4 linked regions of the Homo sapiens genome follow. The protein of the gene in region 1 interacts with the protein of each later gene in a biochemical or structural test. Each region holds a gene or a part of one and is shown on either strand. Other genes may lie near its edges.

What was found.
Region 2: the proteins of AP1G1 (region 1) and AFTPH form a complex in vitro, tested with the Homo sapiens proteins (one study listed by BioGRID).
Region 3: the proteins of AP1G1 (region 1) and KIF13A form a complex in vitro, tested with the Homo sapiens proteins (one study listed by BioGRID).
Region 4: the proteins of AP1G1 (region 1) and SNX9 form a complex in vitro, tested with the Homo sapiens proteins (one study listed by BioGRID).

Annotation. Positions count from the first base shown.
Region 1 is NC_000016.10:71,798,210-71,806,511, forward strand, and holds part of AP1G1 (AP-1 complex subunit gamma-1), read right to left. Parts: intron 1-8,302. UniProt on the Homo sapiens protein: Subunit of clathrin-associated adaptor protein complex 1 that plays a role in protein sorting in the late-Golgi/trans-Golgi network (TGN) and/or endosomes.
Region 2 is NC_000002.12:64,519,105-64,527,914, reverse strand, and holds the start of AFTPH (aftiphilin), read right to left. Parts: upstream 3,588-8,810; 5' UTR 3,303-3,587; intron 2,403-3,302; exon of another isoform or gene 2,350-2,402; intron 1-2,349. UniProt on the Homo sapiens protein: Component of clathrin-coated vesicles.
Region 3 is NC_000006.12:17,762,480-17,768,224, forward strand, and holds the end of KIF13A (kinesin-like protein KIF13A), read right to left. Parts: intron 2,468-5,745; coding exon 1,631-2,467; 3' UTR 1,214-1,630; downstream 1-1,213. UniProt on the Homo sapiens protein: Plus end-directed microtubule-dependent motor protein involved in intracellular transport and regulating various processes such as mannose-6-phosphate receptor (M6PR) transport to the plasma membrane, endosomal sorting during melanosome biogenesis and cytokinesis.
Region 4 is NC_000006.12:157,817,738-157,826,591, reverse strand, and holds the start of SNX9 (sorting nexin-9), read right to left. Parts: upstream 3,347-8,854; 5' UTR 3,158-3,346; coding exon 3,146-3,157; intron 1-3,145. UniProt on the Homo sapiens protein: Involved in endocytosis and intracellular vesicle trafficking, both during interphase and at the end of mitosis. Required for efficient progress through mitosis and cytokinesis. Required for normal formation of the cleavage furrow at the end of mitosis.

The sequences.
Region 1 (8,302 bases):
CAAGGTGGGAGGATCACTTGAGGCCATGAGTTAGAAACCAGCCTGGGCAATACAGTGAGACTGTGTCTCTACACTGCCTCCCAGATTCAAGCAATTCTCCTGCCTTACCCTACCGAGTAGCCAGGACTATAGGCGCGTGCCACCACGCTCAGCTAATTTTTTTGTATTTTTAGTAGAGACAAGGTTTCACCTTGTTAGCTAGGATGATCTCAGTCTCCTGACCTCGTGATCCGCCAGCCTCGGCCTCCCAAAGTGCTGGGATTACAGGCATGAGCCACTGCACCCAGCTGGAATGGATTCTAAGACAGTTTCAGAAACCAAAGAGGAAAAGAGGGATATATATAATTACCTGAAAATGTCTGTGACATAAATAAGATTAAAAGATAAATGAGGCCGGGCGTGGTGCGGTGGCTCACGCCTGTAATCCCAGCACTTTGGAAGGCAGAGGCAGGCAGATCACCTGAGGTCAGGAGTTTGAGACCAGCCTGGCCAACATGGCGAATCTCTGTCTCTACTAAAAGTACAAAAATTAGCCGGGCATGGTGGCGGGCACCTGTAATCCCAGCTACCCAGGAAGCTGAGGCAGGAGAATTGCTTGAACCCAGGAGGCAGAGGCTGCAGTGAGCCGAGATCACACCACTGCACTCTAGCCTGGGCGACAAGGGTGAGACTCTGTCTCCCAGGAAAAAAAAAAAGGATAAATGAAAGACAAGAAAAATACACGTGCCATATAACAAAGAATTAACATTCCATAAGCGCTCCTACAGGAGGAAAAAAAAAGAGAAAGAAAAATGAAGCAAGGACATGAGCAGACAATTCTCGGTAAAGGAAATCCAATGGCTATTATACGTATCAAATAAGGCTAGCCCCAGTAACAGGGAAGTTAAAATTAAGACAAACTGCATGACCCATTTATCATCTAGCAGACTAGTAAAAATTAAACTATGTATTTATACCCAGTGGTTTCATGATATGGAGAAGTTACTGCTATTTGGGATGAAAATTATGATAACCTATTTAGAGAGTAATCTAGCAATAATAATATTTAAAATATATTTCTCTGTTAACCCAGAATTCCCCCTTTGGAGACTACAGAAATAAAAGCATCAGCATATAAGGCGGCATGTACAAGGATATTTATTGTAGCACTTTGTTAAGTGGCAAAAATCTAGAAATGATCTAAATGTCCACAGGAAAATAATAAATTATGGTACATCCACGCTATAAGACACAATAGGACTGTTTAAAGGAACAAGATAGAATTATATTTACTGTGGGCTGAGTGCAGTGGCTCACACCTGTAATCTCAGCACTTTGGGAGGCCACAGGAGGCAGACTGCTCAAGTCCAGGAGTTTGAGACCAGCCTGAGCAATACAGCTATATCTCATCTCTTATTAAAAAACTAATAGGCTGGGAGCGGTGGCTCACACCTGTAATCCCAGCACTTTGGGAGGCCAAGGTAGGCGGATCATGAAGTCAGGAGATCAAGACCATCCTGGCTAACATGGTGAAACCCAATTCTACTAAAAATACAGAAAATTAGCGGGGTGTGGTGACAGGTGCCTGCAGTCCCAGCTACTCGGGAGGCTGATGCAGGAGAATGGCGTGAACCCAGGAAGCAGAGCATGCAGTGAGCCGAGACTGCGCCACTGCACTCCAGCCTTCGTGACAGAGCGAGGTTCCATCTTAAAAATAATAATAATAATAATAATAATAAAAAATTATATTGGCTGGGTGCGGTGGCTCACGCCTGTAACCCCAGCACTTTGGGAGGCCGATGCAGGCAGATTGCTCAAGCCCAGGAGTTCGAGATCAGCCTGAGCAACATAGCAAAATGTCATCTTTTAAAAAAATAATAATAAAGAATTATATTGCCGGGCACGGTGGCTCACGCCTGTAATCCCAGCACTTTGGGAGGCCGAGGCAGGTGGATCACGAGGTCAGGAGATCAAGACCATCCTGGTTAACATGGTGAAACTCTGTCTCTACTAAAAAAAAAAATACAAAAAAATTAGCCGGGTGTGGTGGTGGGCGCCTGTAGTCCCAGCTACTCGGGAGGCTGAGGCAGGAGAATGGCGTGAACCCAGGAGGTGGAGCTTGCAGTGAGCCGAGATCGCACCACTGCACTCTAGCCTGGGTGATAGAGCAAGACTCCCCATCTCAAAAAAAAAAAAAAAAAGAATTATATTGGCCAGGCACGGTGGCTCACACCTGTAATCCTAGCACTTTGGGAGGCCAAGGTGGGAGGATCATGTGAGGTCGGGAGTTCAAAACCAGCCTGACCAACATGGAGAAACCCCCCCGTCTCGGGTCGGGTGCGGGGGCTCACGCCTTTAATCCTAGCACTTTGGGAGGCCAAGGTGGGCAGATCACGAGGTCAGGAGATGGAGACCATCCTGGCTAACATGGTGAAACCCCATCTCTACTAAAAATACAGAACATTAGCCAGGCGTGGTGGTGGGTGCCTGTAGTCCCAGCTACTCGGGAGGCTGACGCAGGAGAATGGCGTGAACCTGGGAGGCAGAACTTGCAGTGAGCTGGGATCGCGCCACTGCACTCCAGCCTGGGCAACACAGCGAGACTCCGTCTCAAAAAAAAAAAAGAAAGAAACCCCATCTCTACTAAAAATACAAACTTAGCGGGGCATGGTGGCACATGTCTGTAATCCCAACTACTCGGGAGGCTGAGGCAGGAGAATCACTTGAACCTGGGAGGCGGAGGTTGCGGTGAGCTGAGATCACGCCATTGCACTCCAGCCTGGGCAGCAAAAGCAAAACTCCGTCTCAAAAAAACAAAACAAAAATGAATTATATTGGCTGGGCGCGGTGGCTCATGCCTGTAATCCCAGCACTTTGGGAGGCCAAGGCAGGCAGATCACTTAAGGTCAGGAGTTTGATACCAGCCAGGCCAACATGGCGAAACCTCATCTCTACTAAAAATACAAAAATTATCTGGGTGTGGTGGCAGGTGCCTATAATCCCAGCTACTCTGAAGTCTGAGGCAGGAGAATCACTGAACCCAGGAGGCGGAGATTCCCACCACCTGGGTGACAGGGTAAGACTCCATCTCAAAAAAAACAAACAAACAAAAAAAAAGAATTATATTTACTGACCATGACATGTTAAAAAAAAAAAAAAGCGTGTCATAGAGTAATATAAATAATATGATCTCTCTTTAGTAAAAACAAAAAATTCCTATGTACACTTACGTGAGTATGTACAGTACTTAACTAAGCATTGAGAGAAATATTGAAGCGTAAATTCATTCATAATCTGTTAAAATTTGGGGTTAAAATTAAGACTGTCATAGAACAGATGATGTAACACTACAGGGTAAACACTATAGGGTAAACATCCCTAATCCAAAATCTGAAATTCTCCAAAACCTGACATTTTTTGATTGTTGACATGATGCTTGAAGAAATGCTCTTCAAGGCCGGGCGCGGTGGGTCACGCCTGTTATCCCAGCAGGGGAGGCTGAGGCGGGCAGATCACAAGGTCAGGAGATCACGACCATCCTGGCTAACATGGTGAAAGCCCGTCTCTACTGAAAATACAAAAAATTAGCCAGGCGTGGTGGCGGGCGCCTGCAGTCCCAGCTACTCTGGAGACTGAGGCAGGAGAATGGCATGAACCCGGGAGGCGGAGCTTGCAGTGAGCCGAGATTGCGCCACTGCACTCCAGCCTGGGCGACAGGGCGAGACTCCGTAACCAAAAAAAAAAAAAAAAAAGAAAAGAAAAAAATGCTCTGCAAGTGTTTCAGATTTTGGATTTTAGGATTAGGGATGTACAAGTGGTGTAACGCAAATATTCCAAAATCTGAAAAAATCCAAAATATGAAACATTTCTGGTCTCAAGCATTTCAGATAAGAGATACTCAATGTGTATTTGGTTGAAAGAGCTAACTTATATAAATGATTATACAGTTGTACAACTCAAAGTAAAAGGAGTTCCATTAGTGTTTTTACAGCTCAAGTTAGTGAACCTATTTAACTAAACCTCAAAACTAAACAACTGAAAAAGTGTTCAGTCTTAAAAGGAAGCAAAAGAAGCGTTTTTTACTTACCTCTTTTTTTTGAGACAGTCTATCTCTGTCACCCAGGCTGGAGTGCAGTGGCACAGTCTTAGCTCACTGCAGCCTTGAACTCCTGGGTTCAAGTGATCTTCCTGCCTCAGGCTCCCAGGCAGCTAAGGCTACTGGCAAAGACACCACAACCCAGCTACTTTAAAAAATTTTGGGCCAGGCGCGGTAGCTCATGCCTGTAATCCCGGCACTTTGGGAGGCCGAGGTGGGTGGATCACCTGAGGTCAGGAGGTCAAGACCAGCCTGTCCAACATGGTGAAACCCCATCTCTACTAAAAGTACAAAAATTAACTGGGCATGGTGGCGGGCGCCTGTAATTCTAGCTACTTGGGAGGCTGAGGCAGAAGAATCGCTTGAACCCAGGAGGCGGAGGTTGAGGTGAGCCGAGATCGCACCACTGCACTCCAGCCTGGGTGACAGAGCAAGACTCTGTCTCAAAAAAAAAATTCGTACAGCCAGAGTCCCACTGTGTTTCCCAGGCTGGTTTCAAACTCCTGTCCTCAAGTGATCCTTCTGACTTGGCTTCCCAAAGTACTGGGATTACAGACATGAGCCACCAGGTCTGGCCAGCGAAGTTTATTTTTAGGTTGAGAAAACACGTAACATCTTTACATATCTTTGAAAGATTTAAAATATTTTAGCCAGGCTCGGTGGCTCACACCTATAATCCCAGCACTTTGGGAGGCTGAAGCAGGTGAATCACCTGAGGTCAGGATTTCGAGACCAGCCTGGCCAACGTGACAAAACCCCGTCTCCACTAAAAATACAAAAAGTAGCCAGGTACAGTGGTGCACGCCTGCAGTCCCAGCTACTCGGGAGGCTGAGCACAAGAATCGCGGGAACCCAGGAGGTAGAGGCTGTAGTAAGCTGAGATGGCACCACTGCACTCCAGCCTGGGTGACAGAGTGAGACTCTGTCTCAAAAAGAATAAATAAATAAATAATAAGATGTTTTTATTTATAAATTACAAAAGTCACATGTATTTTTTCCTCATCTTTTAAAAAAATGACTTCTTCCTTCTAAACCTACTTAATTTGTTGCCAACATTTATGATTTACTAATTAAATCTCTCCAATGGTCTGAGTAGGCTTTTTTTTAAAGTAAAATTTCCAAGTACCTAGTGAAAAAAAGCATTTCTCATTTCAATCATCTCATCCTAAACCTTGCCCTTTTATGCTAAAGTGTTAGTTAATGCTGACTCAACACATTTGGCAAGTGAGTTTTTTTTCTCCCACTTCTGGACCCTTCAAACTTTAACCAGTTTTTCCAGCAACCAAAACTCATGCCATATTAAGTGTATTGTGTTACTAGGTCAGTGAAGAAAAAAACTTAACACGTATCTTCAAAGTAAAAATGACACCTCATTCATGCCTGTAATCCCAGCACTTTGGGAGGCCAAGGCTGGTGGATCACTTGAGCCCAGGAATTCAAGATCAGCCTGGTCAACAGGGTGAAGCCCTGTCTCTACTAAAAATACAAAAATTAGCTAGGCATGGTGGCGCACACCTGTAGTCCCAGCTACTCGGGAGGCTGAGGCAGAAGAATTGCTTGAACCAGGGGGCGGAGGTTGCAGTAAGCAGAGATGGCTCCGATGCACTCCAGCCTGGGCAACAGAGGAGGACTCCGTCTCAAAAAAAAAAAAAAAAAAGACACCTCTTTTCCCTTTTCTATTTCTTGACCTCATTGAAATAAAATTTTCTATACAAAAAGGCAACTGTAAAAATGCTACTACATTTTGATAAACATATTTTATTTATTTATTTTTTTTTTGGAGACAAGAGTCTCGCTCTGTCCCCAGGCTGGAGTGCAGTGGCGTGATCTCAGCTCACCACAACCTCCACCTCCCAGGTTCAAGTGATTCTCCTGCCTCAGTCTCCCGAGTAGCTGGGACTACAGGCGCGCACCATCATGCCCAGCTAATTTTTCTATTTTTTTGTAGAGATGGGGTTTAACCATGTTGGCCAGGATGGTCTCGATCTCCTGACCTCGTGATCCACCCGCCTCGGCCTCCCAAAGTGCTGGGATTACAGGCATGAGCCACCTCGCCCAGCCAACAAAGATCATTTCAAAACCTGTAAGCCAAGAAATACAAAAGATTTCTATATGCTCTCTTAATTTTTTTTTTTTTTTTTTGAGACAGAGCCTCCATCTGTCACCCAGGCTGGAGTGCAGTGGCGTGATCTCAGCTCACTGCAACCTCCACCTCCCTGTTCAAGCAATCCTCCCACCTGAGCCTCCTAAGTAGCTGGGAATGCAGGTGCACATCACCATGCCCGGCTAACTTTTGTATTTTTAGTACAGACGGGATTTCATCATGTTGACCAGGCTAGTATCAAACTCCTGACCTCAAGTGATCCGCCTGCCTCGGCCTCCCAAAGTGCTGGGATTACAGGCATGAACCACTGCACCAGCCTGCTCTCTTAAGTTTAAAATTGCTTGTGGGCAAGGCATGGTGGCACACACCTTTAATACCAGCACTTTGGGAGACAGAGGTGGGAGGACCTCTTGAGCCCAGGAATTTGAAACCAGCCTGGGCAACATGGCGAATCCCCGTCTCCACAAAAAAATAATAAATCAGGCGGCACATGCCTACAGTCCCAGCTACTTAGGAGGCTGAAGTGGGAGGATCACTTGAACCTGGGAGGAGGTCGAGGCTGCAGTGAGCTGAGATTGCACCACTGCACTCCAGCCTGGGTGAAAGAGTGAGAACCTGTCTCAATCAATCAATCAATAAAAATAAAATTGCTTGTTACTTATAAGCTGAGAGGAGTTGAAAAAAAATTGTTTGCTACTTTCAACATTATTCTGCATTAGAAACTGAGTAAAAGCAACAGAGAATAAAGAAAGCCAAAATCAAGAACCGAAAACAGACTGAACGCAGTGGCTCCTCCTGCCTGTAATCCCAGCACTTTGGGAGGCCAAGGTGGGTGGATCACTTGAGCTCAGGAGTTCGAGACCAGCCTAGCCAACATGGTGAAACCCCGCCTCTACTAAAAATACAAAAATTAGCTGGGCATGGTGGCGCACGCTTGTAATCCCAGCTACTCGGGAGGCTGAGGCAGCAGAAATCACTGGAATCCAGGAGGTGGAGGTTGCACAGTGAGCCGAGATCGAGCCACTGCACTCCAGCCTGGGAGACAGAGTAAGACTTTGTCTCAAAAAACAAACAAAAAAGAACTGAAAACAATTCATAAAGCAAGGACAGACTAAATTACAAACACCTAAAACAGTATTTTTAAATGTTCTGAAGCTCTAAGTAAGAGTTTTAAAGTTTTGATAGCAATTAAGTCCTGCTATATACACAAAATTTTAAAATCCTCATCAAATGCAAATAAGGGGATTAAGCATTGTGGAAAATCTGTTTTGGTATGTAGATTGCCAATTCAATTTTTTTAATTAAAAATAATATCTTGGAAAATACTCATTCAACTTTTTAAATTTGTATAAATTAAAAGTTTTGGCCAGGTGAGGTGGCTCACACCTGTAATCTCAGCACTTTGCGAGGCCGAGGCAAGAGGATTGCTTGAGCCCAGCCTGGGCAACATGACAAAACACTATCTATACAAAAAATACAAAAATTAGCCCTGCGTGGTAGCACACGCCTGTAGTCCCAGCTACGTGGAGGGCTGAGGCAGGAGGATCGCTTGAGTCCAGGAGGTCCAGGCTGCAGTGAGCTGAGACCACTGCACTCCAGCCTGGGCAACAGAGTGAGACCCTGTCTCAAACAATAAAAATAATAAAAAAAAAAAAAAAGAGTTTTTATAAATCATAAAGAAGTTGGTTTTGTTTGCATACCACTGATTTTTAAAACTCCTTTTTTAAATAAACACTGGGGTGAAATATCACCAAGGCATTCCTGGCAAATTCTGTACTTTAAAGTTTCACTCTAAAATCTGCCCTCAAATCTAGAACTGCTATCAATGACAGAGGTCAGACCAAAGAACAAGCAACTGCCCCCAAAAGAAAACGGAGGTTTCCTAAACGCAAAGCAGACATTCAAATATGCACTGATCAATGGTGCACTAAACAACACTTTGCTAGGAATTTGTTAAGGCAAAAGGACCCTTTCTACAGTGAATGCAAACTATCTAAGAATGAATTTTTAAAAGTTTAATATTTTTAAATATTTTGGTAGAGACGGAGTCTCATTAGGTTGCCCAGGCTGGCCTCCAACTCCTGGGCTCAAGGGATCCACCTTCCACCTCCCAAAGTGTTGGG
Region 2 (8,810 bases), on another chromosome or scaffold:
GTCTAATCCACAGACCTATGAGCCCCTACCCTAGAAGGGAAAGGCCAGAAATAGACACTAGGAGTGTGACAAAGGGCTGTTAAATGGTTGCCAGCAATAGGGAAGAGTCCAGGCAAGGGAAGTTAATGCAGAGGAATCTGGAGAGGCAAACAATTCTTAATTAAAAACATTTTTTTAACTTAGAAGCTCCTTGTATTTTAAAAGAAAGTCAACACAAAATAATACTAACTCCTTTCCTGTCCTTTTTTTAAATATACAATGCTGAAAGAAGAGTGATACTTTATATATGTTTTAAAGTTAAATACCTAAACTTTTAATTTCTTTTTTTTTTTTTGAGATGATGTTTTGCTCTTGTTGCCCAGGCTGGAGTGCACTGGCATGATCTCAGCTCACTGCAACCTCCGCCTCCCGGGTTCAAGCGATTCCCCTGCCTCAGTCTCCCGAATAGCTGGGATTATAGGCATGTGCCACCACACCCGGCTAATTTTGTATTTTCAGTAGAGACGGGGTTTCTCCATGTTGGTCAGGCTGGTTTTGAACTCCCGACCTCAGGTGATCTGCCCACCCCGGTCTCCCAAAGTGCTGGGATTACAGGTGTGAGCCACCATGCCCGGCCTTTAAACTTTTAATTTCATTGTGAAGAACTTCATGCAAACCTTAGGGAGAAAAAAGCCATAATGAATGAGCCAGTAACCATCACCCAGGTGTGTTAAATCTTAATCTCTTAACAAGTCAACTTCGGATTTTTTTTAAGGATATAAAGATATGTTTGTAAACCCATGGGCCCCTCCTAGATCCTTCATCCCTCTCAAGTTCTCCAAAGGTCACTTTTAGTCTGACTTGGTGTTTATCATTCCCATGCATGTTGTTATACTTTTGCTACATATTGCACAAATCACAGACAATACATAGTATAGTTTTGCATGAGACTATATAAATGGTCTAGCAAACGGATCTGTCACTTAACAGCTGTTTGACCTAAGGCAAGTTACTTAGTATCTGTGTGCCTCAGTTTCCTCTCTGAAAAATGAGGGATACTACTACTTACTGCCTTACAGGTTGTTGTGTGGATTGAGTTAGTACACTGTATATAAAGCATTTAGAAAACTATCTTGCTCATAGGAAGCAATATATATGAGCAACATATATACTGCTCATGTGTTAGCAATTATCATATAAAGCTGCAAAAGAACTTGTGACTATATCTGATATATGCACAAACTGAGAAAATGATTAGCAAAATGAGATATGTAAAATCCATACAATGCCAGATTTTCAAAATAGTGTAAAAACTAAAAATACTTATAAAGTTCCGGCTAGAAAGGTTCACTATTCTACTTAAAAAGGAATTGAAAGTGCTAAGAATAGAGGGAAAAACCTTTATTTTTTAATCTACAAAGTGTAGGTAACATTAAATTAGAATATAAACATTTTATTTAAATAATTTATGATGATTAAAAAATATCTAAATACTTAGCGGCCTCCTTTTATGAGATTTGGGGGAAGGGTTGGGAGAGAAGGGGCAATCCCTTAATGAGAAGCTATTCAAAGACTTTGCCTGCTGAGGAAAGCACTTTAGATTTCACACAAAATAAAACATTATTTGGTACTCAAATGTCACTACATTTCTGAACTAGTTTTTCACTAAATGTAAGCAGAACAAATGAAAATGTAAAATGATGTTTTATGATATGATTCACCCACACTATACAATTTTCATAACGAAAACTGGATTCGGCAAGATGTATCAAGGCTATTAAGGACATATTATCCTTGTTGTGATACGGGATTATTTTTTAACAGTCTCTAGGTCAAAAGATCAGCAAACATTAAAACTTAAATGCCCTACATATTATGTGAATTGTAGTGGATTTTTTTCCAGAGGTTTTTGAAGATTTAAAAATATATGTGTACTTTGAAGATCAACTGATATATCTAATTTAATCCACGGAGGAACAACTAGAGCTAATGAATATCTGCTAGGTGCCATTTACTGGGCTAGATGTTTTACACAAGATCTGTCTTTTAATCCATGTGAAATATCTTTATGAACAAAATTTAGGAGACTACCACAGATACTTTGTTTAAACAAATATACCTCTGCGAAGTGTTAAAAATGACTACTAAAAAAGCCAACATTTAAACTGGTAAAGCATATAAAATGTACGTGACTGTGTTAATTATATTAACATAATAATGTTGAAACATTTGTTGTCCCTAGAGTTTAGCATATATTTTAATGTCTAAGAGGTTAACTGAAAGCAACAATTAAGTGTAGCATCAAAGATAAACTCTGTGTCTCCCCTCCACCAAATAAAATCCTCGGAATAGGAGGTGGAAGGAAGACTTACACTGTAGGAAAAGTTGAAAACCAAAGTTCTACTTTACTTCTCCTAAAGTGAGAACTTTGAAACGGAACCATTACTTTTGTTTCATCCCCCCGCCCAGTAAAAAATTTACATGTATGAGTCAGTTCTTCCCTCGGCCCCAACAGAAAAGATTCAGTATAACCAAGCTATAACTTGCACAAAGCAACAAGGAAAAAAAAACCTTGCTATCCCCATTACTTTCCTAATAGAGCAAGGACCCTACCACCCCTCACTCCATACTCTGCCTCTGCCCCAAGCAAGACGCAGCACCTGCCAAACCAGGCACTTAAGGAATATGGTCCAACTTTTCAAACGCAAACTGGAGAGGAGACGCAGATAATTTCTTGAAGAGTGCAAGAAGACAGCAGAAAAGGTACTCTGAGGAAGGGATGCGTGAGCTTTGGGGCTGTCCCCTCTGCCTGTTGGAGGATTCCAAATTCGCTTGCTTCAGAGACCCTTGGAAGCAGCACACTCAGGTCGCGGCCAGCCTCGGGCCTCGGTGAAGGAGGCAGTGTTTACACCTGTCACGAGGGAGGGGGAAGGAGAGCGAAGAAGCCCAAGCAAAGCCCCAAACTTCTGAACAGCTCCCTGGAGAACGCAGCCAGCGCGGAGCTTTGGGAGGTGGAAGCAAAGGGGCAGGGAGAGCCGGCGGTGGCCGGGGAGGGAAGGACTCCCACTTACCCGGCCGGTGCCCGGGATGGCGAGGAGGGGGCCGTGCGCTTCGGGCGCCACCAGCGGCGTTCCCGCACTCGCCGCAGAAGAGAGCAGAGCCGGGAGCCCGCAGGCCCGCAGAGCCAGCTCCGTCCTCACAGCTCCCGGCTCCGCGGCGGGCAGATGCTCCCGGCCCGGGTGAGGGTCTGGCTGCTGGGCCGGGCCTGGTCCCCGCACCCTCTTTCCCCGGCGCAGCTAGGGGAGCGGAGCGGCGGCGCTTACCTGGCTCCTTCGGGGCGGCTGCGATGGGCATGGCTCAGGGGCCCGGGGAGGAACTGACTCCCCGGGGAAGGACCGTCTATTCCGACGCGGAACTGGTGAGAGCGGAAGGCCGGCTGCTCACAGCCCTGTCAGCGCAGCAGCACCATGGACGCCCACCCGGAGTTTCACCGCTGCCGCGGGACCCCCATCCCACTACCCTCCGCCCTCTTCCGCCGCCGCCGCCGCCTCCTCCACCTCCTCCGCGGAGACCCCCCGCCCACTCCACACACTCTCCCATCATGCAGCGGGGGAACCGCTGCCGCCGACACGTCACTTCCGGGCGCAGGTGGCTAGGTCGGGACCGGGCGCTGGTGGGTGCTGTGGGGTGGGGGAGGACACTCCAGGGGAATTGGTGTCACAGAACGCTTATCCCTGCGCAGGCGCTGTCGTGCAGAGCGCCGACCGCCATTTTGGGTGCGGGCAAGCTGCCCTTTCCTTTTACTTCCTTGCGAGTCATAGAGCTGTAGGGGGATAGACGTCTTCCCGCACTCAGGCGCCGGTTGAGGCTGCGCTCCTGGCGAAGGACAGGTGCTCCTTTCAGCCGGTTAACGTTCAGCTCAAGACCGGATTAAGTCTCTTGCTCTCCAAATAAAATTGTAAAGGTTTGGAAATATAGAACCACATTTTTACCAAAAACCTACTAGAGAGCATTCGTCAGCTTGCCCTTTTCGCCCCGAAAAACGACTTTTTCATTCACAGCCTGTCTCTTCCTCTTTTTAAATTTATGCCGACAGAGGAAGAAGCTGATATTTAACAAATAACAAGAGGTTGCGATAAATAGAATTTAAGGTGGGAAAGCAGCCGCCAAACTGACAAATCGTCTTCGAGACCGACAAGAAAATAGTAGTCCGGAATTTGGCTAATGGATGGAGAAGGTGGTCGTTTTTCATAGACCCTTACGGAGAATATCTAGTGAAGCTAAAGAGATCACCATAAACTTATGCATTCAAACGCATTTCTGGAACAGAGGTCGTAACCGATTTTGTTTCCATCATCAGTCCTGAACAGTTGATTATTTATATAATCAACTGTTATTTATATAAAGGTAATAAAAATATTACCTTTCCTCCTCCTTTACAATGAATATCTGTTAGAACACCTGCCAGTGTAACAATCAGACTACAAGGCTACAGGATTATGATTACTGTCTCGGATGATGAGCCCGGGGTCCTACAAATCATGACCCCCGCCGGCCCCTCATTCTGCCCATATTTGCCAAACGTCTGCATCAGTAATTTGAATAATTTAAAATAGTTCCAAAACAGCAAAGCTCAGCAGTTACGCAAAGAAACAAGAATGGAAAACATCCCCTCAGGCACAGAGAAGTGTCCACCCCTTTGGGTGGAGGAATTATACAAATCAGGAGAAAGATAAGGACAATAGCAGTTCATCACGATTTATCCCGCCTCTGCAATGTTCTAGACAAATTAACTCGGAGCGCTCCAATGGACCCGCATTTGTCTCTTTACTATTCAATCGCTGTAAGATATACGGAGACTGCATCACTTTAAATGGGAGTATCAATTGCTTTGTGGTTATGCTGGATTTTGTGTTATTGCTCAGTCACTAAAGTAAGAAAAATCTATATGGCTTGTCAAATTTATGCCTATTGTATTTCGCCCCCTGCTGGTTTAGCTCGTGTGCAAGCTTGAATTTGTGTGTGTGTAGAAACTAGAAATTGATTTTAAACGAACACATGCTTGTTTTCATTTTACAGCTCTACTAAACAGAAATATCAAAATAAGAACATATGACTAGACCTTAAAGCAGACCCTACACTAAGAACATGTTTAAACTAAATGAATTTAAACTGCACTCCAGCCTGCGCGACAGAGTGAAACCCTGTCTAAAAAAAAATTAAATTAAATTGCACACCCCCCATCAGCTTACAATTTTGTAATAGGGAAATTGAGTACCTATTTGGCCAACTAACTTGTAATTGGTAATCTTACATGTAATTCCGAAGACAGTGCCCTAATGCTCATGACATTTTATTACAAAGGGAAAGTATTTGAGTGTTTTTAAGGTGATAAATCTGTGGGAAATATAAAGTCCATTTCATTTGGAGTCAATGATAGTATTGTTTTTATTTACCTTTTAAAAATTATGGCCATAACTGCATTACCTAAGATTTGGCATCAAGAAAAGAAGAAGAAAAAAATTACCAGTTAACATTTGTTGTATTTACTTCTAGTTTTTTTTTCCTGTGCGTACTTTTTACAAACTTGTAATCATAATTTAAGTAGATTTTGTGTCCCTTTTGTGTTGTAAGCATTTCCACCCATCGTTTAATGTAAAACCTTAATTTTAATTGGCTGCTTAGTAGTCAATGGAATGACCACTATATGGATAGTTTTCAGTATTATAAAATAATACTTAGATGAACATTTTGTGTGTGTGGCTTTGTTCAATTTTAGAATTTTTTTTCTCAGTATAAAAGTTACTAAGCGAAAAGGCAATGAATGTTTTATTGGTAATTTATCATCTCATATTATTTTCCAAGAGACTGCTAATTTAGAATGCCACCAGCAATATATGAGTGCACTAATTTTACCACCTCCTTACCAACCAGCAGTGAATGATAATTAAGAGGGGAAAAAAAGATGGAAAGAATAAAAAGTGAAAACAGTTTAATTCATTTTATATTGTGTAAGAAATTAACAGACAAGCAAGAACAAAACCTCAGCAATGTGTTGGTGTTCTGGAAAAGCAATATGCGTAGAACCTGGGTCTATGACCAGTTCTGTTGTCACTATGATTTTGTATAAGTTACTCAACCTCTCTTGACCTCAGTCTCCTTATATAACAAATGAGAGAATACAGTCAGATCACAGGTTCTCAACCCTCTTAGGACAAATAATGTTTTGGCACATGTATCTCTTTAAGAATACGGTAAAAGCTTTGGCTCTTTCTATAGAAAAATGCTTGTATCCACAGACACTCAAATTTCTCATCCTAAAGCTCATTCACAGAAGAGGGTCTTTGAACCACAGCTTAAGAAATATGCACCAGATAATCGCCAAGGTCCTTTCTGTATCTAAACATTTACTTAAAATTTTATTTATTTATTTATTTATTTATATTTTTATTTTTTTGAGACAGGTTCTCCCTCCATTGCGCAGGCTGGAGTGCAGTGGTGCCATCACGGCTCACTGCAGACTCAACCTCCTGGGCTCAAGGGATCCTCCTACCTCAGCCTCCGAAGTAGCTGGGACTGCAGGTGCATGTCATCACGCTCAGCTAATTTTTTTATTTTTTGTAGAGATGGGGTCTCACTATGTTGCCCAGGTTGGTCTCAAACTCTTGGGCTCAAGCAATTCACCCACCCTGGCTTCCCAAAACGCTGGGATTACAGGTATTATGTCACCACTACCTCTTGAAATATGTCCTTCATACAGTTCTATAAAAATAGGTTATTAGGCTGGGCATGATGGGTGACGCCTGTAATCCCAGCACTTTGGGAGGCCGAGGTGGGCAGATCACTTGAGCCCAGGAGTTCAAGACCAGCCTGGGTAACATGGTGAAACTCCATCTTTACAAAAAATTAGCCAGGTGAGGTGGCATGCTCCTGTAGTCCCAGCTACTCGGGAGGCTGAGGTAGGAGGATCACCTGAGCCCATGAGGTCAAGAATGCAGTGAGTTGTGATTGCGCCACTGCACTCCACCCTGGCTGACAGAGCAAGACCCCTTCTCAATAATAATAATAATAATAATAATAATGAGCGACTTTCCCAAAGTGTGATGAGCAACAGAGATTTTGTTTCTTAATCATTCCCACTGATCTTTCTTGGATTTGCTTATCAAATTTATTGCATAAATAATAAAAATTACAATTTGGTGTTATAGTACTTCCTGGAGTACTGGATATCTAGAACTTTATGGACATATTCAATGTATCAGGGAAAATATTGAATATTTCAATATTTAATATGTCTTAACCTGTTAAGACAGTATTAATTTTATCCATAAAATTGGAGAGGTAGGGAAGAAACTGCTGTTTGACTACATTATTTCTAAAGGTGCTGAAACTTTTTCAGCAAATTTTTTAAAGGCTCAAATTCTGTATATAAAGTTCTAACAAATTTTATAGAACTTTCCAACGAAAAACTTTTGAAGGATGGGCTTCTGGTAGTGGTAATTGACCTGAATACGTAACATTTAAATCAAAGACCTCAAACTAATTTCCTAGATTTATCTAGACATATTCTTTTGCTACATGAGGACCAGCGTTCCACCCCCTTTGGAGGATTTGACAACAAGGTGCCATCTTGGAAGCAGAGAACAGCACGCACCAAACAACCAAATCTCTTGGCACCTTGATCTTGCACTTCACAGCCCCAAGGACTGAACCTGTACCCACTCATGGGCTTACCACATATGGAGCAATATAGATGGAGTGTTCTCCTGAAGGGAGCTGCAGCCCAACCTTCTTCTTTATTCTAGTCTTCAAGCCTCTCTTTTGGCTCTGAGCAAAGCTTTGAAGGGCTCATTATGTGCTATAATGGTTCCACTATCAACCTGCTATGTTGTGAAATTCAGCCTGATCACCTGGAGAAAACATGACCTTTCTGAGCAACTTGTCTCTCAGGAGAAAAGTCTCCTTTATTTTGAAGGAGATTGGCCTCAGGGCACTGTGGAAGTGATAACTCTATTTCTACTTTTGTCCCTTATTTCAAGGTGAAGAGAAGTGGAAACCTTGCAGTGAGTCATGACAAAAATATATAAAGTAAAACATTAAAATTAATTTCACCTGTTTCTTTTTACTTTTTAAAACTAGCTACTAGAAAATTTTAAATCACAATGTGGCTCACATTATATTTCTATTGTACAATGCTGAACCTTTGTTTAAAACCTACATCTGTCTTTAAATTTGTGTAGTCATAGGATCCAGGGAAATACAATAGAAATAGTTTTCATGCAATTTTAACAGTTGCATGAAGGCAGAGACTTCTGTCTGCTTTATTCATTTCTATATTCCCAACTTCAAGAAAGTGGCCTGGTACATGGTTGATGGCGATACATATTTATTCAGTAAATGACATTCCATTGAATGAGTGGCGTGGGTAGTTCTAGAAAAAAAAATTTAATGTATTTCTGTTTTTTTTGTTTGTTTGTTTGTTTGTTTGTTTGTTTTTTGAGATGGAGTCTCTCTCTTGTTGCCCAGGCTGGAGTGCAGTGGCGCAATCTTGGCTGACTGCAACCTCCACTTCCTGGGTTCAAGCGATTCTCCTGCCTCAGCGTCCCTAGTAGCTGGAATTACGGGTGTGCGCCACCTTGGCCAGCTAATTTTTGTATTTTTAGTACAGACGAGGTTTCACCATGTTGGCCGGTCTGGTCTTGAACTCTGGACCTCAGGTGATCCGCTTGCCTTGGCCTCCCAAAGTGCTGGGATTACAAGCATGAGCCACCACGCCCAGCTGAAAAATTTAATGTATTTTTAATAGCTTTCTTGAGGCTTTGCTATTTATC
Region 3 (5,745 bases), on another chromosome or scaffold:
GGGATTACAGGCATGAGCCACCATACTCGGCCATGAATATGAATTTTTAAGAGGCCTGCCACACCCTCCTTGCCCCTAGAGTTTGTAGCACCTTTAGGTTTGAGAAGCAAACCTAATCTTACAGTAAAGAATTAAAGAGTCTTTGACACTGGCCTTCTTGACGAACAAGGGTTGAAAAGCTGATGTATACCAGCTGTGTAGCTTCTGCTTTAATCCAGGTAAAGAAAGTTGAAGACCTAAACAAATGCATGTATTGCTTGCAAGAATGGTGGTGAGTGACTCTATCATTATTCTTATGTCGGGGAAGGAAGTCTTTTTCTTGTCAGAGATGACTGTTTAGGTTTTGGCAGTTCAGTAATGAGTATGCTGTATAAATGACCATACATTGAAATTTTAAGGGCTGTTATGAAAAGCAGGGGCAAAAGCCACATCAATGGAGTAACTTGCTCGCAAAACAAAGGGATAGAGTAGCAGCATGATTATTTTACTTTTACCAAGCCTCTTTCTAGCTCTGTCAGTTCTTTATTTTGCTAAGCCATGACTCTCCCATGCCTTTTACAGCAAGTTGGGGGACCAAACAAATGAATGTGAATGGGAATAAATGGTGGTACTTCAGAGCAGAATGCTCAGAAGCAGAACATCTCTTATTTATGTAATTTGTGATTTTCCTTAGTAATAGTGGCAAAAACTCATTTTGTTCCCGTATGAAAATTAACCAATATTAGTCAGGCACAGTGGCTCATGCCTATAATCCCAACACTTTGGGAGGCCAAGGGGGATGGATCACCTGAGGTCAGAAGTTTGAGACCAGCCTGGCCAACATGGTGAAAATATAAAAAAATTAGCCAGATGTGCTGGCACGTGCCTGTAGTCCCAGCTACACGGGAGGCTGAGGCAGGAGGATCACGTGAGCCAGGGAGGTGGAGGCTGCAATGAGCCAAGATCGTGTCACTGCACTGCAGCCTGGGTGACAGAGTGAGAGCCACACTCCATCTCAAAAAAAAAAAAAAAAAAAAGAAAAAAGAAAATTAACCAGTATTATAAACTGAGTTACTTCCAAAGTCCAAACTTCAACTGCTGCTGGAATTTGCCTATACCGCCCCAAAGCACTTTTTCACCTACGGGCACCAAACGACTGTCTATTTCCAATTCTATGATATATATGTTTTTCTCTCCACACTTTACCATCTCTGAAATTGGGGTGTCTTACAACTGTTGATATGACAGAGTTTAATTGGCAGTATTTTTTCTTAATGATACATAAAATAATGGTTCATATAATAATCAAAGGAATCACAGATTTGATGAAATATGGTAGATGCTACCAGAACACTTTGGGAAAACTGGTAACTAAACATCCCAGGGAATGAATATGAGATTGATCCTTATCCATCTGAACACTTCATTCAACACCAACCCATGTGCCAGGTAAAAAAATCCACTGGTCTTATAATTTCACAATTGCGTTCTAGTTCCCAAAACAGACTTGCTCTCCGACAGAGACAGCTGTGCAGGAAGTGAGCCTGCTTCTCTGTGGGCTCATCTTTGCTGTCACAAACAACTGGATGAATCTTTCCTACCAAGTTGTTGCGGTGAAGGGCCTCTGGGGTTGACATACAGTTAGACATACTCATTGACAGCACAGAACCCAAAAGGCTGCCTCTGGAATTATTACCTGGTCATTCTCTAACTTGGAATGCAGCTGGCTGGGGTGGTGGAGCCCATCGGAGACAGTCTTGCCGCCTGTTTTATTTGGTAGACTCCTCCTACTGGAAAGCTCTCCAGCAGAAGAATCTGTCAAACCATCAAAATCTTTTCCCTCTGACACTCCCATAAATTCTGTGAAAGAATGGTCTTCAAGGATGTTGGTGGTGTGTTCTACCGTCACCTCCCTGGGGCAGAATCCCCTGGCTGGCTGGCTAATTTTGCTGGGGCAGGCATCTAGTTCTGAACATGAGCCAGTCCTGCACAGTGATTTGGAGTTTTTCTCAGGGATGCTCTGGGATGATGGGCTCCCTTTGGCTAAGGCACTGTTTTCCTTGAGTGGCACCACAATTATCTTGTCCTTTACCAAGCCTTTTTCGACTTCTGTCAACTCTTTGTTTGAGGACGGCCTGAAATCATGCACAAGCGATGGTGTGGAGTGCTCGGTGGAGTCTGCATCCTTCGTCTGAATGGCCAGCTGGTCTGAGCTGTCACTAGAAGGGACCACCATGTCAGACAGGGTGGCATTGGAGGCACTGTGGGAAAAGTAGCCACTGGTAATACTGCTGGTGGTAGGGCTACGGGACACTTCTTTCTCCAAGACCCGTGAGTTTGACAGATCTACTTTAGAGGAAAACCATTCCCTGTTCTCCAAGCTGGCATTGTAAACACTGAAGTCAGCAAACTCCACAGGTACATAAGGCTGTGAACTTATTAGCTTCCTGTTAATAGCTTCCAGCTCATTTTCTTCCTCCTCAGAGTCCTATAGAAGTGAAGCAAAAGTCAGTCATTAGCTCCTTGTAGCAACTGTACTGTTGAGACAAGTTTTAAATACTTGGCTGTTAAAGGCATTCACATTCACATGGTGTTCAGTGTTTTCTTTTTGTCTTTCCAAATTTGGCCAGATCTTGTCACCTATTGTAGATATAGGTGTATCAGTATTCTCAGAGACCTGTGAATATAAACCCCTTATCATCTAATATGAAGGGGATTTAGTTCTTTTAGGCTCACTCAGTGCTAATTAGAAATCATTCCTTCCCTGGTTTAAGAGAAAGAATGGAACTGAAGTGCAGTGGACATTTTGTTAGTTATTCAAAATTAGCTTTTAGTTGTGATGTTTTCTCTTTTCTCATTAAATGAGCAGAGAAACAGGCAGAAGCAGAGAAGAGCCACTCCTTTTGTCTTTAGAATCTTCACCTTGGGAAGCAAAGTGCAGGCAGTTAAGGTAATTTTTAAAAAGTTTCTCAGCTATTTTATGGGGGAGAAGAGAGTAAAACAAAGAACCCAACTGCAAAAGGGCAAAAAACACAATTTCAACACTCATTCTTATATTATGCTACATATCGTAAGGCTATAAAATACTAACAATCTGACAATTACGGTCTTCTAGGATTTTTGAGAAGTATGAGTAGAGGGTTTGGCTAGAAGGTGAAGAAGGCATAGTGAAATTTAAATGAAAATCTCCTTTGTAAAACAGTTTTCAAGCCCCTGTTCACAAAAATTGGTAAATACATGCAAAAGTGGGTGTCACCAACTCCCCAGTCTCTCTCCAAATGAATGATTCTTTTATATTTGGTAGAAAAAATGTGGGTATTTTAAGTCCAAATAAAATAAGTGATAAACTCTCTAGCCATTTCTAATTAATCTCAGAAGCACCTAATGAAATCGCAAATATTCCTTTTAAAATATGTCTTTCATTCAACAAATACACACTGAACATCCACTACATGGCAGCCATTGTCCTAAGGACTTGGAAATAGCAATGGTGAGCACAAGAAGGCATGGTCCCTCCCTCAGAGAATTACAACTTTGCGTCCTTGCTCTTAGAACAATCCTGGATGCTGCATGGATGGATAAGAATTTCATTCACAGGTAAACTTAGACACCTCAAAAACAGTTAGCTTTCTTTCATTGGTCATCTGGTTTAAAGCATCTGTACAATTAGAACTACTAGGTGCATGTAAAGACCTGGAACCGAAGCATCAGCCTTACTCATTAAGTTTGCATTTTATTAATTTACTTATTTTATTTTTAAGATTTATTTATTTATTTATTTATTTATTTATTTATTTTGAGATGGAGTTTCACTCTTGTTGCCCAGGCTGGAGTGCAATGGTGTGATCTCGGCTCACCGCAACCTCCATCTCCCAGGTTCAAGCAATTCTCCTGCGTCAGCCTCCCGAGTAGCTGGGATTACAGGCATGCGCCAGCATGCCAGGCTAATTTTGTATTTTTATAGAGACAGGGTTTCTCCATGTTGGTCAGGCTTGTCTCAAACTGCCGACCTCAGGTGATCTGCCCGTCTCAGCCTCCCAAAGTGCTGCGATTACAGGCATGAGACACCGTGCCCGGCTAGGATTTATTTATTTTTATTTATTTATTTTTTTACAGACAGGGGTCCTGCTCTGTCACTCAGGTTGGTGTGCAGTGATGCAACTGTAGCTCACTGCAGCCTCAAACTCCTGGGCTCAAGCAATCCTCCAATCTCTGCCTCCTGAGTAGCTGGGATTACAAGTGTGAATCACTGTACCTGGCCCATAACATAAATTTGCTTTTTAATCGAGGTGGGGAGGGGGGATTTATCTTCAAGGCATGGCAAATACTTGTTCACAAATGAACATAAATTTCATCTGTTTAGATTAATAGTAATATTTTCTTTTGCATCTCAAGATTCTATATACCTCAAAAAAAGTTTAATACTCTCTTAAATGCTTCTCAGCTTTTAAAATAATTTAGTTTTTATAACTTAGTTGTAAAAATGTGACTGAAAATAAATGTGTAAAGGAATTGGTGATCCTAATTCTTTAGCTGTTAATCAAAGGTGAATATCAAATATCAGTGATAAAGTTCCTGAAATTGGCAAAACAAAATTTTTGGCAACACTAATCTCTTCTCATCTTTATCTGCATTCTAAATTAAGTAGCATTATCAAAAAAGTGGGGTGGAGCATTCTTTCCCAGGGTTGGGCAGAATGTTGGAGAAGGAACAAAGATTGAACAGAATTGTCTGAACCAGTAGCCTTTGCCTATATTTTCTAGATTCTCTACTTGTCATGTTTAGACTCAAAATTAATTTTTTTTTTTTTTTTGAGACGAAGTCTCACTCTTGTCGTCCAGGCTGGAGTGCAATGGCGCGATCTTGGATCACTGCAACCTCTGCCTCCCGAGTTCAAGTGATTCTCCTGCTTCAGCCTCCCAAGTAGCTGGGATTACAGGTGTCCGCCACCATGCCCGGCTAATTTTTGTATTTTTAGTAGAGACAGGATTTCACCATGTTGGCCAGGCTGGTCTCGAACTCCTGACCTCAGGCGATCTGCCCGTCTCGGGCTTCTAAAGTGCTGGGATTACAGGTGTGAGCCACCATGCCCGGCACAAAATTAAATTTCAAGTGTTTGTATCTCTTCTATTTCCTTTTGATTTAAGTTGGCAAACACAATTCTCCAAGTCCAAGCATACCTGATGCAATTAATTACTAAATTACTATTTACTATAATTAAGTACTGAAAAGTTATTTACTTCAAGGAAAATCAAATTTAAAAATGAGAATTAGTAATTTGGAGTCCTTTATATGCTTGAAGTTATTTCTTCTCGAGACCAAGGAAAGGCCTGTTATCCTAAAATACAATTTTGCTGAATGAAATATGTAATCATGAATTCACTGAGTAGAAATAGTTGTAAATTTATCAAAGATAATAAATTATTCCTCAAGGATTAGAATGACATTAATAAAACTAAGAATCTACAAAGCCCCAAGAGATTAAGTTCAAATAGGGAGCAGTTCACAGTGGGGAAAATAACCCAAAAGCCCAGAGGGAAAGACTAAAACAGTAGGGACAGCTTATTCCAGAAAAAGGAAAACTTAGTAGAGATTAAACATTTTCCAATACTTAAAAGGAGATTGAATGTTTATTGAGTTATTGCCAATTAAGGGAGGATTTAATTGGCTTAAACTCATATTTTTGAGGGAGTTTGGTTTAGATTTTTTATACCAGAAATCTCATTTCTCATCATAGCTTAAAGAAGAATAAACTAAGCACCTTCC
Region 4 (8,854 bases), on another chromosome or scaffold:
ACTCTACTGAGTAAGGAGTAGAAATAGAAAATAGATAATCCCCTTAAAATGTGCAGTTACTGATTAACTTTCCTTTTTTTTTTTTTTTTCTTGAGATGGAGTCTCACTCTGTCACCCAGGCTGGAGTGCAGTGGCGCAAAATCGGCTCACTGCAAGTTCTGCCTCCCGGGTTCACGCTATTCTCCTGCCTCAGCCTCCCGAGTAGCTGGGACTACAGGCGCCCGCCACCACGCCCAGCTAATTTTTTTTGTATTTTTAGTATAGATGGAGTTTCACCGTGTTAGCCAGGATGGTCTCGATCTCCCGACCTCGTGATCCGCCCGCCTCGGCCTCCCAAAGTGCTAGGATTACAGGCGTGAGACGGCGCCCGACCCTGATTAACTTTCTTTAGCAGTGAAGGACTGTCAAACTAAAGTTCTTCTTCTAAAAGATAATTTCCTTTTTTATTGTAAAATATAGTAGTGGAGTTTTTAAAAATCCCAATAGTTCAGTGATAACCACATCCTTAATACGTAAGAACAAACAAGAAAATTGTATCTGAAGATACTATAGCCAAGTCTCTGATAAATTCAAAGGGAAATCGACATCCCTTAAAATATCCAGATACTGAATTTACTTTTCATCAGTTAATACTTATAGCAACAGCCTGAGTGCCACTGGAGCCTACATTTTTATTAAAAGTTAGTCATTACTACTAAGCACATTCTCCCCACCCCTTGAAGAAGACAAAGAAAAAACACAACTACTCAGGTGTGGGGAAGGAGTGTGCATATGGGGGAAGGGAGGAAAGCACCAACTTGACTCTCTGGGAACAATTAAAAAATGAGACTTTGGTTTGACACAAGAATCACCAGCATGTCAGAAAACAAAGGAAGGGTCTTCTTTTAATAACTGCTTCGTTGCTCTTCTTTTTCTTAAAATGGAAATGGTTTGTCACAATGTAAACATGGAAATGAGCACCATGTGGAACAGTGATTAGGCAGCCGAAAGAAACTAACAGAACTACTGGAATTTGCCTTTGGAGTGGTGTAGATAACGAAGTAGGAAGTCCTTACGCATGCTTTAAGGCTCGTGTTTAATCAAAGACACATGCAATTCGAGATTAATATACAAGAACCACTTTTCGATTTTTTGGAAAAAAATTAAGTTCAGGATTAACTATGAAATAAAAATTTCACTATATATACCTGCACTAGTTGCTAAACTGCATTCCACTTAAAGGACAGTACAGATAACATGCCTCAGTAGACCAGAGTGTAAAAACACACTGACCACCACTAGACAGATCTCTATGTCATAAACCGTCTTCTCTTTTTTCAAACGGAGTCTCGTCTTTTCTTTTTTCAAACGGAGTCTCGCTCTGTCGCCCAGGCTGGAGTGCAGTGGCGCGATCTCGGATCACTGCAACCTCCGCCTCCCGGGTTCAAGCGATTCTCCTGCCTCAGCCTCCAGAGCAGCTGGGGCTACAGGCGCGCGCCACCACGCCCAGCTAATTTCTGTATTTTTAGTAGAGACAGGGTTTCACCATATTGGCCAGGCTTGTCTCGAGCTCCCGACCTCAGGTGAACCACCCACCGCGGCCTCCCAAAGTGCTGGAATTACAGGTGGGAGTGAGCCACCGCGCCCGGCCTATAAACCGCTTTTAAGGTTGCAAGATGAGCATGTACTAGGATGTGTAACTGGTAATTTCTGGAATGTCTGGCAACAAACCTCAAAATCAAATTTCCTTAGAAATCCTTGGCCTAAGTTTTATTTTTAAAAAGGTCAACACAAAATTAATACGTTAAAAAGGTGGCAAGTTCTATCGCATTAATAAAACCAAAGCACAGCACAGGCAATAATATATTAACAAGAAGGTAATTATTTCAGTAACAGCAGCAACAGGTTCCCTGGAGGAGAATCCCCATTTCTCTACAAACGCTGCACCTAGATGGATTCAGAGCACAAAATTTACCACAGCACAACATCTAGCAGACCGAAGTCAAGCAATGCTGATCTTTCAAAGAGATTTCACATTTCTTACCATTTTCTACCTTAACACTCCACAAAAAAAGCAAACACCTATCGAAAAATAAAAAATAACGTTTCTAGCAACCCAAAAGTAGCTCAGAGATCTCAAAAACAAATAGACAAAGGGGTGCTGATGCTAACAAAGTGACATTACAAAAACTAAGTGCAAAAGTAAACCCACTCCTCACAGTGTATCACAGATCAGTTAATGGCTCAGGTATAGAGCCTCCTCCCCCAGGTCCTCCCTTCCGTGACCGTGACTTCCCCAGTGGCTATTCTACATCAAGTAACTACTGAAAACGCCCAAGGAAAAGGAGCGGGGGAGGGTGGCTTTTGAAAATTCAGGTAGCCAAGAGTGACTGCTAATTTCATAAACAATAACGTAAAACAAGCAAACCACCGCTCCTAGCCAATGACGAAGCAGGAGTCAAAGTTCCACCACGTAATTCGGGCCTGGGCCTTTTTTCAGGCAAACACGTAATCGAAAGCACAGTCATTTCCCTCTTGATATTTTATTCATGCCGGCAATGCCATTCACAATGAAAAGGTAGCAAAACAAAAGAAAAAAATAACAGCAGCGAAGGCAAAGGGGCGCGGGGCGTCCCAGCCTCGGTCCCTCCCCGGCCGCGAGCCCCCGCAGGCCGGGACGGGAAGCGCCGCGTCCTCTCCGCCGAGGTCTCGACCCCCACCCGCCCCGCGGGGGCGAGGGTCCCCCAGGCGGCAGCGGGAGGGGACGTGGGGGCGGCGGGGACGCCGGACGCCACAGAGCGCCAGTCGCCTCGGGGGCCTCCCCGGGCTGCGGGAAGTTTCCGTCCCGCGGCCCCTCCCGGCGAGCCCGCCGCAGCCCACGCTCAGGTGCAAACTTCCCAAACCTCGCTGCGCCCGGGGTCCCAACCCGCGCCCAGACCCGACGCCGTCCCCCGGTGCGATCCTGGTGGTCTGTCTGCACTGCCCGCCGCACCCATGCCCAGAAGGGACTGGCTGGGCCGCGGACCCGCCCGGGGACTCCACCGAGGAAGCGGAGTGGCCCCTCGACCACCCCTGGCCCCGACCCTCCCCGCGGCCCCGGCCCCGACCCTCTCCGCGCCGCCCCGGGCCTGAGCGACCGGCCCGGCCTGCGCCGCGCGCCCCTCACCTTGGTGGCCATGGCGGGCGGGTCCCCCGGCCCGGGACGGCCGGCTCGTCTCCCGCGCCGCGGATGGTGATTCTGAGCCGCGCAGGCAAAGGCAAGGGCGAGGGCGGCGGCTCCGGCTGGGCCCCGGCGCGGCGGCCGCTCCTCCGCCTCGGCCCCGAGTCTCGACGCTCAGGCCCAGCCGCTGGGCGCTCGGCTACTCCCGCGCCGCACGCTCCTGCAGTTCCTGAAAGTCCCCGGCTGCGCGGCCCCCGCCCCTGTCGGCCGAGCCTCCCATTTACCGCGGCGCGCGCGACGCCCGCCGGAAGCGCGCCCTGGGCCCTCGGCCGCGGCCCGGCCTCCTCGCCTCCTGGCCGCCCCCGCGCCGCGCCGCCGCCCCGGGCAGTCACCGCCGCCGCCGCCGCCGCCGCCCCCGGGCGCCCTTGGTCGAGGCTGGGAGCGGCGTCCCGCGCAGCGGCGGGGTCCGGACGGGCGCCCCAGGCCATGGCCCGCAACCCTGCGTGGCCGCCCCAGGGGAAGCGATCCGCGGCCCACAGAGCCGCTCGGGGTAGCCGAACCCCGACTCCGGTTCACGCTCGGCCGGCGCCGCACGCCGTGGCTCGGCGCTTTCCGTGCATGAGGCGGGAGGGGGCGGCAGGAACTCTCGACGCCCCGGGCAGACAGGAGCCCCGCAACCCCGCTGTCTTTGCCCCACGCCTGGGGTGTTGCGGGGTCGCCGTGCCCTTGGCCGAGTACCCTGAGTACCACATAAACAGCTGGGAAGGAGCGGAGCGATGGCTTCCTGGGCCTCTTCCTCCTGCCCGGAGGCTCCCTCAGGCCGGGGTCCTGGCTTGAAGCCCCTGGGACGGGACGGTGGGGGGTTTCGTTCTGTGACGCCCCGTTAACCTCATTCTGGAATCTTGATAAGCTTAAAAATACCGGAGGGCCCGAGAGGTTTGGGGGACAACAGGCTCTCTGAAGTGGAAACGAGGTCTCTAAAATTTTCCATCTTTCTGTCAGTGTTTCTTTCCAGAGTTGGAGATATATATATGGGTGTTATGAATAAACGAATGACTTGAATTGAGCAGCAAGATTTTTCACTCAAGGACAAAACACGACTGGAAGATGTGTCTTAATTGGCATACTAGTGGAGTGCTTTTTTATTATTATGAGGGATATATTTGTAAGAAGAGACAACTATCAAATGTAAATCTCTGGTGTTTAATGTCAAGTTTGTGTCTTCTTAAATACATTCTATTTGACCTGAGATTTCACTAGTTATATTCAATAATGGGGTTTAAAATAGATACGGTATTGCAGAATTTTCTGTGAATTTTTGTGTTTGTTGAGCTCATGGTTAAGCTATAGTCATCATAATATGCATAAATAGTTGTCTTTCTCCGTAAAAAAAAATATTGGGAGGCCAACATTCATTGACGGCCTGCTTGCTGTATACTAGGCTTCCACATCCCCATCTCATTTAATCCTTATAAGAAACATTTGAGAAACTCATTATTGTCCACTGTTTACAAAGAAGAGCGACTCAGGGATCACTTAAATAACTTGCCCATTTGGTAATACTTATTCAAATCGAAAATGACCGTAGCCTTGGACCCAGCAGCCCTCCTGGGAATTTATCCTGTCAAACACTTGTACAAGTGTTCAAAGATGTTCATCAAAGATTGTTCTGTAATAACTCCAACCAGAAAGCAACCTATGTGTTTGTTAACAGGACTGTTTCAGTAAATAAGATACATCCATTCAAACAAAAATACTAGGAAGCCCGTAAGAAAATGATAATATTCTAAGAGGTGTTAAGAAAGATAAAAAGAACATTATGTATGGTACATTTATGTAAAAAAAAAAAAAAAAAGGAAATATGTGACACATTCCTAGAAAATTTCTGAGAAAGATTCGCCAGATCCTGTTGTCAGAGTTTTTGACCATGTGTATATATGACTTCATTTAAAAACAGCAGTTATATTTTAATAAACAATGGAAGAAATAACTTGGCTAAGAGCACACACTAGTATGTGGAAAAGCCAGGATTTGAACTCAGGCAATGTCATAAGTAATGAGTTTTCCATATTCTTTTAAATGTGAAGGCTGGGTACAGCTCTCTCTGCAGCCGTTCAACAATGCATCCCTTGATAGGAAGGTGCAAAGTTAGGGGCACACCTGTGAAGACAGGCCTTTCCACATGCTCATCTGGCAAATCCTATGCAAATAGTCATCCTGGGCACCCAGCACCATGAAAGCAAGAAGACTAGAGACTTCAAGCTTTTCCCACCAGAACAATTTCATAACCCTGGTTTTATTTTTTAGAAGTAATGGTGGAGGGCTAAGGTGGAAGGATTGCTTAAGCCCAGGTGTTCAACACCAGCCTGGGCAACATAGTGAGACCTCATTTCTAGAAGTTTTTTGTTGTTGTTGTTGTTTTAAAAAGAGCAAGACTGTGAAAAACAAATGAAAAAGTACATAAACAGAGATAAACATGGCCGGGCGCTGTGGCTCACGCCTGTAATCCCAGCACTTTGGGAGGCTGCGGCGGGCGGGTCACGAGGTGAAGAGATCGAAACCATCCTGGCCAACATGGTGAAACCCCGTCTCTACTAAAAATACAAAAATTAGCTGGGCATGGTGGCACGCGCCTGTAGTCCCAGCTACTCAGGAGGCTGAGGCAGGAGAATCACTTGAACCCGGAAGGCGGAGGTTGCAGTGGGCCGAGATCGAGCCACTGCACTCCAGCCTGGGCAAGACTCCGACTCAAAAAAAAAAAAAAAAAAAAAGAGATAAACATGTGCACTTTCACAATAAGCCACACCGAAGGGATCTTGAACATAACTAAAATCTTTTTCACATTTTTAGTAATGAATTGGGTAGTATATCTCCAGTAAATACTGCTAAACTTAGGAGTTTTATTTTTATATACGTCAGTCAAAATCAACATTACTTCATGAATGTTATAGAGGAGACCCACTTTCATAGAATATATTTGTATATAGAGAGAGAGACTGGGTCTTGTTCTGTCACCCAGGCTGGAGTGCAGTGGCCCAATCTCGGCTCACTGCAGCCTCCGCCTCCCAGGTTCAAGTGATTCTCCTGCCTCAGCCTCCGCAGTAGCTGGGATTACGGGCACCTGCCACCATGCCTGGCTAAGTTTTTTTTTATTTTTTATTTTTTATTTTTAGTAGAGACAGGGTTTTGCCACGTTGGCCAGGCTGGTCTCAAACTCCTTATCCTAAGTGATCCGTCTGCCTCAGCCTCCCAAAGTGCTGGGATTACAGTCGTGAGCCACTGCACCCGGTGGTGGCGTTTGTCTTCTGCTCCCACTTGATCAACCATGCATATCTCTCTTCTGTCCACCTCCGTCCTTTGAGCGAGCTTCCTTAGAGTTGATTCTCTACGCAGGCCTGCCTTTAGAACCCAGAACCCAGAACCCTGGGCCATGCTAAGTTCAGATTTTCTTCTACAGCATGAACTTCCATTACTCCAGGGGTGAGAACACAATTAGTTAAGCAATTGGATTTGCATTTGCAGACTGCGTTTGGTTATTACTAGATTGCACTTTCAAAAGAAAAAGACCTGGAGGCAGAGCAACAGAGCCACTCTGTTTAGGCTTTGTACTCTAGCTGCTTTTTTTTTTTTTTTTTTTGAATCATGCCACAGGAGGTAAAGTGATTAGGATTCACAGGAAGCTTCGTCCAGCCACACAGCTGGGGGGACAGGAAAATAATGACCACCACCTCTTCCCTGCGTTTGTTCAGTATGGCCAGGTGTTTTTATTCAAAATTAGATTCTCCTTTGGTTTTTAAGAGCTCAGAGCCCAACTAAATGCTTGGTCAACTAATGGGAAACTAGCATGGGAAAGTGCAACTATGGGAACTAATGTGGAACGGAGTGAAAATGTGTGATGGTCACCTAATGTAAGGATCGGAGGATGAGAATAATGTGTAACAATACAGAGTCAGCCTGGGTCTGGCACAAGGGGATACCTCCTCTCACTTTAGGGCATGAATTTAATGAGGTTAAAGAAAACCTTGGGGTGACCTTGAAAATAAACGTGGAAAGGAGTGCAGCTGGTGCCATTCCAATCCTAATAAACGTATGACGTCCTCACCTTGGACTGGATGCTGTTACAGGTGAGGGAGACAAAAGTCCCTGCTCTCTTAGAACTTAACAATCTGTAGAGGGTGGGGGAAGTCAATAAACTACAAATAAATGTCTAATGTGCCAGGTGCTTTTATAAGTGCTCTGAAGAATCTTTATAGGAATAAAGAGAAGCAGGAGAGGTTTTTTCCTATAAGGTTTCCCCTTGGCATTAGACTAGCTGAATGTATGTATGAAAAGTGTATGGTTTTAAAATTATGTTTGTTTTAGTTGGTTAGCTGATTGGTTGGTTTTCATTTTTGTTCCATTTTGACTAAGTCACATTTCTTTCTCCATCGTCTGGGAGACACAGAGCCGTAAACAGTAACGGGACATAGTGTCCAGAACTAGAAATTGAGCAGAAATCTGACTGCTAGGACCTGAGCAGTCCAGGAAGGGACAGTTGGCATGGGCAGAGAGAGACTGGAGGCTAGGGAGGCTGCATGGATGGCAGAGGTGGCAGCAGCAGGCGGTGTTAGGCTGGAACAGGAACCGTTTGCTCAAGGTTCTATACTAGACTGTTTGCTGAGTTTGGGTAGTTCCGACTCCCAGAAGGACTGAGCTGTGAGGTGAGGGCAGCAAGAGAAGATTGGCTCACCAGTTGGCTTCCCAAATGAAGTCCCAGCCTGTAGGATCCCTGGTGTCTCATGAAACTTTGCCCTAGGATATTGTTTTAATTCTTTGACCTGTTAAGGACAGGCTGGCGTGAGTCCTTGGAGACGTACTGGCATTCAGTGATTGGGCACAAAGAAGTAACAGTGGATATAGGACATTTTGCTAGTTCATGTGTCATTGCTCAAGTTACAAACTGTGATGGTTAAAACTGAGTGTCAACTTGATTGGATCGAAAGATGCAAAGTATTGATTCTGGGTGTGTCTGTGAGCCTGTTGACGAAGGAGATTAATATTTGAGTCACTGGGTTGGGGAAGGCAGACCCACCCTTAATCTGGGTGGACACCATCTAATCAGCTGCCAGCACAGCTAGAATATAAAGCAGGCAGAAAAACGTGAAAAGAATAGACTGGCCTAGCCTCCCAGCCTACATCTTTCTCCTGTGTTGGATGCTTCCTGCCTTTGAACATCAGACTTCAAGTTCTTCAGTTTTGGGACTCAGACTGGCTCTCCTAGCTCCTCAGCTTGCAGGTGGCCTATTGTGCGACCTTGTGATCATGTGTGTTAATACTTAAAAAACTCATATATATATGTATATATATATATGTGTGTGTGTGTGTGTGTGTGTTTGTGTATATATCCTATTAGTTCTGTCCCCTCTAGAGAACCCTGACTAATACACAAACTATAGAGAGTTCTTTTTTTTTTTTTTTTTTTTTTTGAGACAGGGTCTCACTTTGTTGCCCAGGCTACAAACCAGTGATGCAATCACAGCTCACTGCAACCTTGACCTCCAGGGCTCAAGTGCTATTTATTTATTTATTTATTTATTTAGAGTCAGAGTCTCCCTCTGTTGCCCAGGCTGGAGTGCAGTGGCACGATCTTGACTCACTGCAACCTCTGCCTCCCGGGTTCAAGCAATTCTCCGACCTCAGCCTCCCAAGTAGCTGGAATTACAGTGCCTGCCACCA